Linked DNA regions of Homo sapiens: regions 1 and 3 are each linked to region 2. Evidence: fine-mapped expression QTL. A gene starts in region 2. Each other region holds a variant in brackets. All regions are shown on one strand. Distances are from middle to middle. Region 1 has its middle 9.6 kb from the start of LYPD3. Region 2 holds the start of PHLDB3 (pleckstrin homology like domain family B member 3). Region 3 holds the start of LYPD3 (LY6/PLAUR domain containing 3).

The links.
Region 1: its variant is fine-mapped to the expression of PHLDB3 in whole blood (INTERVAL, PIP above 0.99).
Region 3: its variant is fine-mapped to the expression of PHLDB3 in monocytes after LPS (Fairfax 2014, PIP 0.95).

What each region holds. Positions count from the first base shown.
Region 1 is chr19:43,453,399-43,458,616 of GRCh38, forward strand. No RefSeq gene overlaps it. Among named protein-coding and RNA genes, the nearest start is that of LYPD3, 9.6 kb to the right of the region's middle. The variant A/ACT (reference allele first, on the strand shown) is at 2,301.
Region 2 is chr19:43,502,599-43,507,812 of GRCh38, forward strand. PHLDB3 (pleckstrin homology like domain family B member 3) reads right to left here and starts at 2,148. Exons shown (of 16, transcript NM_198850.4): 1 at 1,991-2,148; 2 at 1,308-1,534. The coding sequence starts at 1,520. It overlaps ETHE1 (ETHE1 persulfide dioxygenase), which reads right to left. Exons shown (of 7, transcript NM_014297.5): 7 at 4,121-4,304. The coding sequence ends at 4,252. RefSeq lists an enhancer at 1,284-1,806 and silencers at 1,435-1,684, 2,285-2,344.
Region 3 is chr19:43,462,296-43,467,513 of GRCh38, forward strand. It overlaps LYPD3 (LY6/PLAUR domain containing 3), which reads right to left and starts at 3,313. Exons shown (of 5, transcript NM_014400.3): 1 at 3,198-3,313; 2 at 2,030-2,161; 3 at 1,304-1,474; 4 at 831-992. The coding sequence starts at 3,276. RefSeq lists enhancers at 842-901, 932-981, 1,534-2,065 and a silencer at 1,132-1,291. The variant TTC/T (reference allele first, on the strand shown) is at 2,637.

The DNA of each region.
Region 1 (5,218 bases), 49 kb before region 2:
GCTACTCAGGAGGCTGGGGTGGGAGGATTGCTTGAGCCCAGGAGGTGGAGGCTGCAGTGAGCTGTGATCGTACCAGTGTACTCCAGCCTGGGTGACAGAACGAGAACATGTCTCAAAAAAAAATTTTTTTTCTAGCAACCACATTTTTTAATTTAGTTATTTTTGAGACGGAGTCTCGCTCTTGTCACCCAGGCTGGAGTGCAATGGTGCAATCTTGACTCATTGCAATCTCTGCCTCCCAGGTTCAAGCAATTCTCCTGCCTCAGCCTTCCAAGTAGCTGGGATTACAGGTGCACACCACCGCGCCTGGCTAATTTTTGTATTTTAGTAGAGACCGGGTTTCACCATGTTGGGCAGGCTGGTCTCGAACTCCTGACCTCAAGTGATCCAACTGCCTCAGCCTCCCAAAGTGCTGGGATTACAGGTGTGAGCCACCACACCCAGCCATTGCCATTTTATAGATGAGAAAACTGAGGCACAGAAAGATGATGGGGCTTGTCCAAAGTCACGAGCTAGAGCAGGAGCAGGGATTTGAACCCCAGCCATCGGGCTCCTTGCAAGGAGAGCAGAGATGGGTTCCTACATGGTCATTCCTTGGGCTGGGTGAGTGTGAGCCCTTGGTGGTCCAATCCTACTCCCCCCAGAGGTCTCAGTAAAGAGAGAATGCTAGTGATTCTTGAGAATACTGAAGGGAAAACCCACAGTTGGTCCCAAGAACGACGGTGTGGGTGGAAGTGAAGAGATGTGGGAAAAGATTTTCCTCTTTCTTGCCCCAGATTGCCAGGGAGTTGGAAAAATCCCCTTGCACTATGGGCTATAGACTAGTGGCTGTCACTGCTACTGGATTCTTCATCACTGGAAAAGCAGAAAGTTGGGGTGAGTTCCCTGTGAAGTCCCAGACCAGGAGAATGGATGTAGGAGGAGGGCCTCTCTTTGTTCTTGTTTTTTGTTTGTTTGGTTTGGTTTGGTTTTTGTGGGGTTTTTTGTTTTGTTTTGTTTCTGAGACAAGGTCTTGCTCTGTCACCCAGGCTGGAGTGCAATGTCATGATCAGAGCTCACTGCAGCCTCAACCTCCCGGGGATCAAGCGATCCTCCCACCCCAGCCTCCTGAGTAGCTGGGATTACAGGCGCGTGCCACCACACGCCTGGCTAACTTTTGTACTTTTTTTAGAGACGAGGTTTCACCATGTTGTCCAGACTGGTCTAGAACTCCTGGGCTCAAGCTATCCTCCCACCTCGGCCTCCCAAAGTGCTAGAATTACAGGTGTGAGCCACCGTGCCCGGCCAGGAGAGCCTCTCTTCAACAAGCATCTCCAGTGTGCCAGGCTCTGGAAGGAGAACTCTAGTCTCTCATTTTATGACCCTCCCTTTCCAAATGGGGAAACTGAGGCTCAGAGGAGACATGTGACTCATCCAACATCACACAGAGGGGAAGGATGGAAAAGTTTCCTCCCACCCCCATCCCATGGCCACCCAATTCCCTTTCCAGAGGCAATGGTATTTATTGCCTTGTGGGTATTTCTTGACATGTTCTAGGCATATACAAGCATTTACACACAGATTTTTTTTTTTACACAATAGTGGTACACTGTTCTGTATCTTATCTTTCATTTTACTTAACATTATTTTCAAGATCTTTCCACATTAATACAAATAGATGTGCCTGGTTTTATTTATTTTATTTAATTAATTTATTTTTGAGACAGAGTCTCACTCTGTCACCTAGGCTAGAGTGCAGTGGCGTGATCTTGGCTCACTGCAACCTCCACCTCCTGGGTTCAAGCAATTCTCCTGCCTTGCCTCCCAAGTAGCTGGGATTACAGGCACCCACCACCACGCCCAGCTACTTTTTGTATTTTTAGTAGAGAGGGGGTTTCGCCATGTTGGCCAGGATGGTCTTGAACTCCTGACCTCAGGTGATCCACCCGCCTCGGCCTCCCAAAGTGCTGGGATTACAAGCGTGAACCACTGCACCTAGCTCATTTTATTTTTATAATGCCCATAAAGCATCAAACTGTGTGAGCACACCATCATAAGCATAACCAGTTCCCTCCTGATAAACATTTAGGTTATTCCTAATGTTTTGTTATTCCAAACACTACTGCAATTAACATCCTGGAGCAGACCTGACATCAGCCTCAGGCGTCCATGTCTACATGTGAGATAAATTCCTGAGAGAAAAACCTGCCAAGTCAGAAGCGATCTGCATTTGTCATTTAGAAAGACGTTTCCAAATTGCACCCCAATTTCCCTCCCCTGCAACTGATTGACCAACCATTTCTCAAAAGGGCTTTTTGAGC[A/ACT]CTCTCTCTCTCTCTCTCTCTTGCTGTCTCTGTATTTTTTTAATGTTTGACAGCAAGAAGATAGTCATGTCTTGCTTATGTAATTAAAATTAAACAAGCCCTTCGTTAAAAACACACAAACCCAGGAAGAAGAGAAACCAGCAAGGCCAGTTCAGGCAGATCCACCCTGCCCCTTGTCACACCTGCCTTGTCCCCAGCAAGCCCTGAAAAAGAGGCTGAAATCAATTTCTCACACATGGACCTCAGACATCAAACCTTGGAAAAAATACAGGAAAGAGATTTTGTAACTTTCCCCCTCTGTGGCTTTTCGTACGGCTAAACCCTCTCACTCTCTCTTCCCTTTCTTTCTCCTCGTCCTTTTTCTTCTTTCTCTCACTTCTGTTTTGGTGAGCTGTCATTAAAAACACTTTAAAGCCGTGTCCAGTCTAATAAGTTATACAGAATCTGGCTGTGTGTGTGTGTGTGTGTGTGTGTGTGTGTGTGTGTGTCTGTGTGTGAGAGAGAGAGAAAGAGAGAGAGACAGAGTCTCACTCTGTCGCCCAGGCTGGAGTGCAGTGGTACAATCACAGCTCACTGCAGCCTCCGCCTTCCGGGTTCAAGTGATTCTCCTGCCTCAGCCTCCCAAGTAGCTGGGATTGTAGGCGCGCACCACCAAGCCTGGCTGATTTTTTTTTTTTTTTTTTGAGACAGAGTCTCACTCTGTCACCCAAGTTGGAGTGCAATGGCACAATCTTGGCTCACTGCAAGCTCCGCCTCCCAGGTTCAAACGATTCTTCTGCCTCAGCCTCCTGAGTAGCTGGGACTACAGGAGTCCGCCACCACGTCCAGCTAATTTTTGTATTTTTAGTAGAGACAGGGTTTTACCATATTGGCCAGACTGGTCTTGAACTCCTGACCTAAGGTGATCCGCCCGCCTCGACCTCCCAAAGTGCTGGGATTACAGGCGTGAGCCACCATGCCCAGCCGATTTTGTTGCATTTTTAGTAGAGATGGGGTTTCGCCATATTGGCCAGACTGGTCTCGAACTCCTCACCTAAGGTGATCCGCCCGCCTCGACTTCCCAAAGTGCTGTGATTACAGGCGTGAGCCACCATGCCCAGCCGATTTTGTTGCATTTTTAGTAGAGATGGGGTTTCGCCATATTGGCCAGACTGGTCTCAAACTCCTGACTTCAAGAGATCCACCCGCCTCGGCCTCACAAAATGTTGCGATTATGGGTATGAGCCACCACACCTGGCCAGAATCTGGTATTTTTAACAGAAAGCAGAGCTAGGAGCTTAAAAGTAGAAACTAGATGAGCAAAACAATTGATTATATTTGAAACACATTAAGCTCTTCTTTTCTCTTCTCCTCCTGAACACAAGCAAGTAACTGTCTGGAAGGAGGTTGGAGGGGTTGCGGTGGGGGAGCGGGAGTCTCAGGGCCCATAATGGGTTTCAGAGGCCAAGATGGATAAGGAGGTCATCCTCCCAAGAAGATGGGAAGGCTGGACAGTGACAGCTGCAAAAGATTGGTTACTTTCAGGGGGATGGATCCGCTAAGTAAATATATTGCCAGCCTGGCCAACATAGCGAATTCCCATCTCTACTAAAAATACAAAAATTAGCCGGGCGTGGTGGTGTGCACCTGTAGTCCCAGCTACTCGAGAGGCTGAGGCAGGAGAATTGCTTGAACCTGGGAGGCAGAAGTTGCAGTGAGCCAAGATCACGCCACTGCACTCCAGCCTGGGCAACAGAGTGAGACTCCATCTCAAACAACAACAAAAAAAAGCATTGGAAGCCAGATTTCTTTTTTTTGAGACAGTGTCTTGCTTTGTCACCCAGGCTGGAGTGCAGTGGCACCATCATGGTTCACTGCAACCTCGGCCTCCAGGGTTCAAGCGATCCTCCCACCTCAGCATCCCCAAGTAGCTGGGACTACAGGCACGTGCCACCACACCTGGCTAATTTTTAATGTATTTTTCTTAGAGACGAGGTTGCCCAGGATGGTCTTAAATTCCTGGACTCAAGGGATCCGCCTGCCTCAGCCTCCCAAAATGCTGGGATTACAAGCATGAGCCACCACGCCCAGCTGAGTGGTAGGGATTTTGAGCTGGGGTGAATGGCGATTGTAGGTCATTTGCATTTTTAATCGGCTTTACCCAGAAGAGAAGGCAACTTTCTTCTGTCTTCATGACAGGAGGTATTTTACAACTGAGAGCTGAGTCATGTACCAAAGTTAGGCTCTCACCTTCCTGGGGGGAGATAGGAGTGCTATTTCCTTTTATGTTTACAATTTCAAAAAGATAGTTTCCTGGGTCCTGGTCACTCATCCCTGTAATCCCAGCATTTTGAGAAGCCAAGGCAGGAAGATAGCTTGACCCCAGTTCAAGATCAGCCTGGGCAACATAGTGAGACTCCATTTCCTGGGCTATCAACTGGCAAGATACTTTTTTTTTCTTTTTTTTTTTGTGACAGAGTGTCATTTTGTCGCCCCCAGGCTGAAGTGCAATGGCGTGATCTTGGCTCGCTGCAACCTCCGCCTCCCAGGTTGAAGCGATTCTCATGCCTCAGCCTCCTGAGTAGCTGGGATTACAGGCACTTGCCACCACACCTGGCTAATTTCTGTATTTTTAGTAGAGACGGGGTTTCAACATGTTGGTCAGGCTGGTCTTGAACTCCTGACCTCGTGATCCACCCGCCTTGGCCTCCCAAAGTACTGGGATTACGGGCGTGAGCCACCGCGCCCGGCCAAGACTTTTAAAGAGGTTTATATCCATCTCAAATGGACAAAGAAATAATTTACAATGACAAGTTTTCTCAAGTAAATGCTCTAAGAAAAGGGAGGTAAGGGGCCTCTGTGGTTAGACCCTCTGGATTCTGAGGGCCTAGAGGCAGGAGGAAGCCTGTCTAAAGTTTAGTCAAGCTGAGGGAAACATT
Region 2 (5,214 bases):
CCGCCACGCCAAGCTCTTTTTTTTTTTTTTTTTTTTTGGCAGAGAGGGGGCGATGCTATGTTGCCCAGGCTGGTCTCAAACTCCTAGGCTCAAGGGATTCTCCCACCTCGGCCTCCCAAAGTGCTACGATTACAGGCATAAGCCACCGCGCCCGGCCTCAGACCCCTGTATTTAAGGTCGGAGTGGGGGAGGGTGCAAGTCCCGTGACCACCCAACCACACGGACCACAGAGGCTTGCAGTACCGTATGGAGGGTGAGCAGGTGTAAAGCCGACTTATGAAAGGTGTTTCTTTTTCTCTATCAGGTCCTATTCTCTTGGCGTCACTTTCTTGTAGTGCCTGGATCTGTCTCTGTCTCTCCACCTGACCCCAGTCTCTCAGATTCGGTATCTGTCCACTAGATCTGTCCACTAGAATCACTAGATCTTTCTTCCTCGGAGTATGTCCCTCTCTCGAGGTTTTTGTCTATTTGTTTCTCTGAGCATCTCTGCCATTTATTTCTGGGTTTCCCTCTGTCTCGATTCCCCTCTCTCTGACTCTAGTCTCACTGTGTCTCTGTCTTTTTGGGGTCTTTGTCTCTCAGTCTCCATGTCTCTGGGTCTCTGTCTGGCTTCTTGATCTCTCTGCATCTCTTACTCGTTTGGTTCTCTCTGTTCTGTAGTCTCTCCTGTCTGTCTATCTGGTCTCTCTCTCTCTCTCTCTCTCTCTCTCTCTCTCTCATTTTTAGAGATAGGTTCTGCTTTGTCCCAGGCTGGGGTGCAGTGGCGCAGTCATAGTTCACCGCAGCCTACAACTCCTGGGCTCAAGCGATCCTCCTGCCTCAGCCTCCCGAGTAGCTGGGATTACAGGCACGCGGCACTGCGCTTGGACAATTTTTGTATTTTTTTTTTCTCTAGAGACAGGGATTTGCTATGTTGCCCAGACTTGTCTCGAACTCCTGGGCTTAAGCAATCCTCCCCTCGGCCTCCCCAAGTGCTGGGATTACAGGCGTGAGCCACCTATCTGGTTCCTCTATACTAGTCTCTCTGTCTCTGTCGCCCGTTTGGGTCTATCTCCGTTCTTGGGGCCTCCCCGTGGCTCTATCTGGTTTCTGTCTCTGTATCTGGTTTCTGTCTGTCTGTGCCTCTGCCTCTCTGGCTCCGTGTCCTGGTGTATCTCTCTCTCAGTAGTCTCTGCTATCACTCGGTCTCTCTCCCTGTCTCCGGGTCTCTGTCTTTCTGGTTTCCCTCTACCTGTCTACCTGTCTGGCCACCTGTTTGGGTCCCCGTCGGTCCAAGCCCCCCGCGCTGTCGCCCTCGGGCCCCTCACCGCGTCGCGGCTGCTCTCAGTGCTGCTGCCTTCTCCCACTTCTTCTTCCTCTGCCTGCTGCTCAGCTCCCCCGCGGCTCGAAGGTTCCGCCAGGACTTCGGATGCCTCCTGTTCCCGGGACTCCTCGGGATGGCCCTGGGGCTGGACCTCCACGTCGCATTCCGGGACCAGCGGCGGCGGGGTCCCCTCCTCGGGGCTGCTTCGCGTCCCCATGGCCGCTGGGACTCCTGCGGGGTGGGCGGGACCAGAAGCTCCGGGGGCGGGGCCTAGGACGGCTGAGCGCCGCTCGCGTCTGCTCCGGGGCGCGGAGACCCCCCCCCAAGGAGGCGGGGCCTAAGAGTTCAAAGGATGGAACTGAGCGTTACGGAGGCGTGTCCTGAAGTTTCCAGAGGCGGGGCTTGATGGCTCCAAGGCGACACGCCACCGGAGACGGGACCGGAATTTGAGTCCGGGTCGTAGCACGCCCCCTACTGACCTCTTCGACCCCGCCTCCCCTCCCTCATCTCTAGGTGTCAGGCCTTGTACCCTCCCAGCAGCCCCCTACAATCTCTTGGATTCGCTTAGAGCGACCCATCTTCTCCCTCCGAGACTCAGCAGTTCGGCTCCCGCCCCATCCTTCCCGGAGCCCCGTAGTCTTAGTCCCGACCCCACTGTGCAGGGCAACCGTGCCCACGCCGCCTCACCCAGGGATCCAGGAGTCGGGGCTCTCCTTCTCTGAACAAGCCAGGAGTCGGAGTCCTTGAGATTCCGAAGTCCAACTGCCACCTCCCCACAGCCTCGGCCCCCTCACGAGCTCAGGCTTCGGCGCGCTCCGCTCTGCGCGCTGGGCACGGCCGCTTCTGCCTATGAGACAGGTGGCAGGGGAAGAGGGAGGAGAGAGGCCGCCCGGTCCCCCTCCCCAGCAGCCCGGAAGTGGAGGGGGGACAACAGGTCCAACAGCTCCCGAGGGAGGAGGGAGCCACGGGCTTGCCCCACCCGTGGCCTCGGCATCCGGCCATCCCGGCCCCACCGGCCCCGGCCCGGCCCCACCCTCGTGGAACTCAGCATCGCGACCTCCCAGTCTCCCTCGAGCCCCTCATTCCTGCCCCCCTGGAGGAGTCTTGGCCACCTCTGTATGGGAGCCTCTCTAATGTCCAGACCTTGGGAGTTCAGAAAGGAAGGCAGGAATGGAGATGGGGACGTCTCCCCTCTAATGAGCCCTTCAGAAGGGCCCTGACCGGTTTGGGGAGCTGGACAAGGGGAAGGGGTGCCCTGAACTGAGTCAGACACCTGCCCAGAGACTGAGGGAAGTGTACCGCCACCCCCCCACAACTTTGCTATGGGGTGGAGGGCAGAGGTTAAAGGTCTCAGCCAGACCCTTTCCTCTCTGGGCGAAAACAGGAAAATGAAAACAGGAAAATAACTGGTATATGAAAAGGGATGATTAGAAGTCAAGAGCTGTGTGAAACACTTTATACCCAGTCATTTAATTTCACCCTCAAAGCTGTCCAGCGAGAAAGTGATTACTACCTCCATTTCTTTTTTTTTAGTAGAGACTGGGTTTCTCCAGGTTGCCCAGGCTGATCTTGAACTCCTGGGCTCAAACAACCTGCCTGCCTCAGCCTCCCAAAGTGTTGAGATTACAGGCGTGAGCCACCGCTCCTGGCCTACTATCTCCATTTTACACTTGGGGATACAAGCTGAGGAGGACAAATGCACCCAAGGTTGGCTGGGCACAGAGGCTCAGGCCTGTAATCCCAGCACTTTGGGAAGCCGAGGCAGGTGGATTGCTTGAGATCAGGAGTTCAAGGCCAGCCTGGGCAACATGGAGAAACCCCATCTCTACTAAAAATACAAAAATTATGCCAGGCGTGGTGGCACACACCTGTCATCTCAGCTACTCCAGAGGCTGAGGCAGGAGGATATCTCGAGCCCAGGAGGTCGAGGCTGCAGTGAGTCTTGAATGTGCCACTGCACTCCAGCCTGGGCGACAGAGTAAGACCCCATCTCAGAAAAAAAAAAAAAAATGTAGCCAACATCTACACATGTTGTAAGTGGTAAAATGCAGGCTTCATTCTCTCAAAAGTCCATGTTCTTAACCATTGCGTATACTGTCACTACAAGCCAGGAAGTACCCAAAAGATCATTCTAAATGATAGTAACTTTAATGGTGAACACTGATAGGCCATGTGCCAGGCACTCACACACATTGACTCATCAGAGCATCACAACACCCCATTATTATTCCTTCCATTTTAGAGATAAGAAAACTGAGGCCTAGAGAAGTGAAGTAACTTACCCCAGGGCTAAGTGGGAAGTGGCTCAAAAGCAAGCCGGTGTTCTAATCCAAGGTGATGAGAAGACCTGCCCCAGATAGCTGTGTTTGTTTTTGATCTTGTGAGTTAGAAATCTTGTGGGCTCCCGGGCTGGGCGCGGTGGCTCACACCTGTAATCCCAGCACTTTGGGAGGCCGAGGCTGGTGGATCACGAGGTCAGGAGATCAAGATCATATTGGCTAACATGGTCAAACCCTGTCTCTACTAAAAATATGAAAAAATTAGCCGGGCATGGTGGCACGCGCCTGTAGTCCCAGCTACTTGGGAAGCTGATGCAGGAGAATCGCTTGAACCCGGGAGGCAGAGGTTGCAGTGAGCCGAGATCGTGCCACTGCACTCCAGCCTGGGCAATGGAGGGAGACTCCATCTCAAAAAAAAAAAGAAAAGAAAAAGAAAACAAATCTTGCAGGCTCCCTGGCCTCTCCATAGGACCAGAACCCCACCCCTTTCGGCCCAGAAACCCAATTGGTTCCCCCAGAAAATAGGTAGAAGTCAGACTCACGTTAAAAAAAGTTTTATTTAGGGAGCTCCAGGGAATGCGGTGGGAAAGGAGAGGTGCAGTGTCATTGCCGCCCTCTCCTCCCACCTAGTGCATTAATAGTGGATGGGAGCATCTGACAGAAGTGAGATCAGGCAGTGGGTGTCTGCACCCCACAGCGCATGTTGGCTGGAACAGCAAAGTCTGAAAGGAAGAAATCAAGGTTAAAACTAAGGGGCCTAGGTAGAGTTCCAGGCCCCACTGGAGACCCAGAAATCCTAGGAACCTTTCCTCTTCAGGAAACTAGAGTTTTGGTCCTGAGCCCACTCCTTCCCTCAGACCCAGGAGTCCAGTACCCCAGCCCCTCCTCCCTCAGACCCAGGAGTCCAGACCCCCAGCCCCTCTTCCCTCAGACCCAGGAGCCCAGACCCCCAGCCCCTCCTCCCTCAGACCCAGGAGTCCAGTCCCCCAGCCCTTCCTTCCTCAGACCCAGGAGTCCAGTCCCCCAGCCCCTCCTCCCTCAGACCCAGGAGTCCAGTCCCCCAGCCCCTCCTCCCTCAGACTCAGGAGTTCAGACCCCCAGCCCCTCCTCCCTCAGACCCAGGAGTCCAGGCCCCCAGCCCCTCCTCCCTCAGACCCAGGAGCCCAGGTCCCCAGTCCCTCCTCCCTCAGACCCAGGAGTCCAGGCCCCCAGCTCCTCCTCCCCCAGTCCCTCCTCCCTCAGACCCAGGAGCCCAGGTCCCCAGTCCCTCCTCCCTCAGATCCAGGAGTCCAGGCCCCCAGTTCCTCCTCCCTCAGACCCAGGAGTCCAGGCCCCCAGTTCTTCCTCCCTCAGACCCAGGAGCCCAGGCCCCCAGCCCAGCCCCTCCTCCTTCAGACCCAGGAGTCCAGGCCCCCAGCTCCTCCTCCCTCAGACCCAGGACCCCAGGCCCCCAGCCCCTCCTCCCTCAGACTCAGGAGCCCAGGCCCCCAGCCCAGCCCCTACTCCCTCAGAGCCAGGAGTCCAGGCCCCCAGCCCCTACTGCCTCAGACCCAGGAGTCCAGTCCCCCAGCCCCTCCTCCCTTAGACCCAGGAGTCCAGGCCCCCAGCCTCTCCTCCCTCAGACCCAGGAGT
Region 3 (5,218 bases), 40 kb before region 2:
CCTCTCACCATTATCCCCTTAGCCTTCACCCTGGCTTTTACCTCCCCATCAGAATTTACTCTTAGAGTCAGAGTTACATCTCCACACCAGGCTCAGTGGTTCACGGCTGTAATCCCAGCACTCTGGGAGACCTAGGCAGGGGGATCTCTTAGCCCAAGAGTTCAATACCAGCCTGGGTAACATGGCAAGACCCCACTGTTACCAAAAATAAAAGGAACCAGTCGTGGCGGTGCACCCTGTAGTCCCAGCTACTTGGGAGGCTGAGGCGGGAGGACTGCTTGAGCCCAAGAGGTAGAGGCTGCAGTGAGCTATGATTGCGCCACTACACTCCAGGCTAGGCGATAGAGCAAGATGCTGTCTTTAAAAAAAAATAGTAATAATAAAATAAAAAAGAACTACATCTTCCATAGCATAACTGGCAGGGGATGGGATTTGAAGAACTTCATTTTCCATGGTTACATTTCTCAATAGTCTGGGACAGGCGGGGGACCCCTTGAGTTTTAAGGGCTAAGAACTAGAGATTCCCCGCAGTGCCTGGGCAGAAGCTTAGAGGCTTAAATACCTCTTAAGTACCTGGCAGCCCTCTATGGAAATGCATTTCCCTCCAAAACACTCTGGGACAAAGCATCACTATCCCCACACTATTAATATGTTGGGGGAAGGGACTGCATTTTCCATGATGCCCTACGATACAAGCACCTAGGCCCCACGATTCCCAGAATGCGTCGCAGGTTAAGGAAACGCTTTGGGTAAAGGGCTCCCTACCGCCCAGGGTGCTTCAGAAGGGCTACCACAACTCCCGTAGGTCCCGTGCTCCGGGGCTCCCTCACCTGCCGTCAAGGTGACGTTGCCGTCGAAGCAGCCCTTGTAGACATGATCGCTGGCGTTGTAGCAGCTCACGACCGGCGGCGATGTACCCTGGCACGCCTCCCGGCTCAGGCCCACACAGCTGTAGCACTCCACGCCGTTGGGCGGGTATGCACTCTCATTACCTGCGAGGGGAGCCGAGAGGAAGAAAAGGTGTCGAAAGGGTTCGGGAACCGCAGCTCGTCCTCTAGCCCCGCCCCTAAGGCCTGGCCCCGGCACTATCGATGACCCCGCCTACTAGTAGCCCCGCCCCAGCGCGCAACCTCGCGGCGCCTACAGCCAGAAAGTCCCTCCTGCTGCCTCTTGGCCCCGCCCCAGAGTGTGACCCCACCCCCAGCCCAGGTCGAGTACTCCCGCCTCTGCCACGGCTCCACCTCTATCTTGGCAGGCCCGAATGTGGCTCCGCCCCCGCAGCTACGGCCCGGCCCCCACGGACCTGCCGGGTCGAGCGCCCGCGAGGTGAGGTTGAGCTTGGCGTTGCAGCGATCCTGAGCGCATTGCTGCAGCTGGATGAACGCCAGAAGCCCGTGAAGATCCAGGCCGCGGTCATTCTTGCCGGGGAGTCCCGAACCGCAACCCCGCACTGCCAGCGAGAATTGTCCGTGGACTAGGGAGAGGGACAAGGGCGGGATTAGCTGTGGGCGTGGTCTCAGATGGGGCGTGGCCCAGAGTTGGGTAGGGTCTGGGAGGGGCGGGGCCTCAAATAGGCCAACACCACAGGACCGACAGGCAGGAATTGGCGGATGGACGCCCCCAAAGAGCCGCTCAGAGCGGAAAGAACGACCGAAGCAGGGAGGAGCGGGGTCACGGAACGGGGGCGGAACCTCAAAGAGCTGAGTCGGAGGAGACAGCCTGGTTGACAGGCAGGGATGGGGAGGTCTCATTGGTGGAGCAGAAAAAGTGCATAGGACGTGACCTCGTTCCAAACCCGAGCTCTCCCCGTCCGCCCCACCCAGTTCTCAACTCTCTGCTCCTCGCGCTTGTAATTGTTAATAGAGAAGGCCTGGCCTGCAAGGCTGTGTCGTAGGGTCCCGGCCAGGCTGAAAGGGAGGGGTGGGGCCGCGTTAAAGGGGCGTGGCCAGATCCAGAAAGGACTATAAGGAGGCGGGGCTGGGCCGGAGGAGCCTGCAGTGGTGTGCGTGGCCCGGGGGTCCCCACTCACTGGTCTCCACCGCCCCCACGGCCTCGGTGCAGACGTCCACGCCCGGCGCGCACTTCACTGTCTTCATCTTGTTCGGGGAGCATCCGTCATCTGCTTTCTGCACGCAGCTGTAGCACTCCAGGGCCTGCGCTCCTGGGGGAGCGGAGCCGAATAGACCTGAGCCCTCCTTGCTAAAGCGTCCACCCCCAAGGAGAAATAGTCCTTCCCATGCCCTCTGTCCCGGGATTAGACAGTCTTATTGCACACACTTTTCCAGGGCAGGAGTAGGGAAAAGCTTTCCACAAATCTGGAAGCACGGGAATCACTGGACCCTTTTCCTTCACACCCACTATGCCAACTGTGGGCACATCCTTCCGACAGCCCTGTATGCCCACTGTAGGCGATCCCCGCCATGAAGCCCCTCATCCCGGGGTAGGAAGGATACCTCCTCACGGTTTTCTGCTCAGAATGAGAGAACTTTTCCCACAGTGTGTGGGAGAACTTTTCCCACAGTAGACTGTGCTCAGTGAGGGATCCCTTCCCACAGCCCCCTTCTGCTCAAATGAGAGAACACTACCCACAGCTTCTCTGCCCAGGACAGGGAACACTTTTTTCTTTTTTTCTTTTT[TTC/T]TTTTTTTTTTTTTTGAGACGGAGTCTCGCTCTGTCGCCAGGCTGGAGTGCAGTGGCGCAATCTCGGCTCACTGCAACCTCCCCTCCTGGATTCAAACGATTCTCCTGCCTCAGCCTCCCGAGTAGCTGGGACTACAGGCTCGCGCTACCGCGCCCAGCTAATTTTTGTATTTTTAGTAGAGACAGGGTTTCACCATGTTGGCCAGGCTGGTCTCGATCGTTTGACCTCATGATCCGCCTGCCTCGGCCTCCCAAAGTGCTGAGATTACAGGCATGAACCACCGCGCCCGGCCTAGGAACAGGGGACTTCTTTCTGCAGCTTCAGGATAGGAAAATTTTGCCCACAGCTCCCCTTGTCCGTGGTGGGGAACCCTTCCTACGGCCCATGGTGGAGGACCCTTCCCTCTGCCTCCCTTGCTTAGGATGGGGGAACTTTGCCCACAGTGCCCTCTGCTTATGTGGGGATCCTTCCCACAGCCTTCTCTGTACGGGGCCAGAGGAGCCTCCTCCCTAAGAGCCCCCACTCTACCCCCTCCACCTCTCCGGGCAGCAGACCCACCTCCGCGAAGCAGCAGCAGCAGCAGCCAGCCTGCAGTCCAGATCATGGCCTGGGCACCTGCTTTCCTGGCGGGGTCCATGGCTCCGTCCTGCTCCCTTGGCGTCCCCCCTGGATGTGCCGCCTCCGAGCTCGGGCCCTCTTACCTGAGCCCAGGATGAGTAACCTCGCCCCAGGCAACCCCAGCCTTGCCCAACCGGGCCAACTCAGCGTCGGCTGTGGGGCGGGGCCCCGCCCCTAGGCGCGTCATCCAAGGGAGAGCGGTCCCTGCCCTGTGAAGTTGCCAAGGAGGGAAAGGGTGGGAGCTGAGGTTCCCTGACAGCTCGCGGGAGAAAGTCTGTGTGTGTTTGGAGTGGGAGAGTAGTGGGGCTTAAAGACAGGCTGGGGCTACTCGACATTCAGTGTTCGGTAACTGTTAAATGAGCATCTACAGTGTGCCCGGCTTTGGTCTAGGTAATGCTGGAGATGAAGACAGAACCAGTGCCTGTCCTGGCAGAGCTCACAGTCTGATGGGGGAGACAGATGCTAATCAAATAATCGTACAAATTGGTGTTTACCAAAGAGACTAAGACACTGAAGGAAAAAGTGTAGTGATACAAGGAGATGTGCAGTCTAGAAGTGGGGGCTGGTCGGTGAGGGCTTCCTTGAGGTTATCTGAGATGCAACCTCAAGGGCATGCAGGATGTAGCCAGCTAGAGCAGGTCAAGAGAGGGACACAGCCCTTTACAAGCAGAGGGAACAGCACGTGGGAGCACCTGGAGGTAGGAGGTAGGATGGACCATTCAAACATGGAAAGGAGAGCAGTGCTCCTGAGCTCAGAAGTCCATGAGAGAAGGGCAGGAACTGAGATGAAAGAGTCAGGCAGAGGCCGAGACACTCAGGGCATCAGAGGCCCCGACAAGAGATTTGGATTAATTTTGAGAATAGTAGAGAACCTTTAAGAGGGTCTAAATGAGCTGGAGGACATAATAGATTTGCTTCCTAATATGATCAACCTGAGAAATAGTGCAGCTAGCCATCAAGAAGTAAATGGAGGCCGGGCGCGGTGGCTCATGCCTGTAATCCCAGCAATTTGGGAGGCCGAGCTGGGTGGATCACTTGAGATCAGGAGTTTGAGACCAGCCTGGGCAACATGGCGAAACCTCATCTCTATTAAAAAAAAATAATAAATTTAAAAAAATTAGCCAGGTGCAGTGGCGTGCACCTGCTGTCCCAGCTACTCGGAAGGGTAGGGCAGGAGAATCACTTGAGCCCAGGAGGTGGAGGTTGCAGTGAGCTGAGATCACGCCACTGCACTCCAGCCTGGGCAACAGAGTGAGACCCTGTCTCAAAAAAAAAAATTTAAAAATTTAAAAATTAAAAAAAAGTAAATGGATCTGAGAGTAGGATATATGATTTTAAAAAAGGAAAAAGAAAAAGAAGTGAATGGCAAAAGAGAGTGGTTGGTTCGGCCAATGGAATACTACACAGCAATAGAAAAGATCCAACACCTGATATATGCAGCAACATATCTCAAAAACTTTGTGTTGGGGCCAGGCACAGTGGCTCACACCTGTAATCCCAGCACTTTGAGACACCAAGGTGGGAGGATCACTTGAACCCAGGGGTTTTGAGACCAGGCTGTGCAACATAGTGAGATCCCATCTCATTTTATTTTAAAAAAAGAAAAAACTTGGTGTTGAGTTTAGAAAGCCTTAAACAAACAAACAAAACATACTGTGTAACTGAATATATATGAAGTTTCAGAACAGACAAAACTAACCAGTGGTGATAGAAATCAGAACACATGTTACCTTTGGGAGGGCATGGCCCCAGAAGGAGCAACAGGGAGGAGCCCCCACGATCTTCATCTAGGTGACAGCTGCATGTGTGTACAGATACGTTGAGAATCACTGACTCAGGCCTGTCACTGGACGTATGTTATTCTTCAATAAAAACAAGGTAAAGAATGTCACTGTGGACTCTGTGTAAAAAAGGAAAATGACTCTAGAAGGGGTGAGAGAGAAGGCCAGGAAACCAACAGG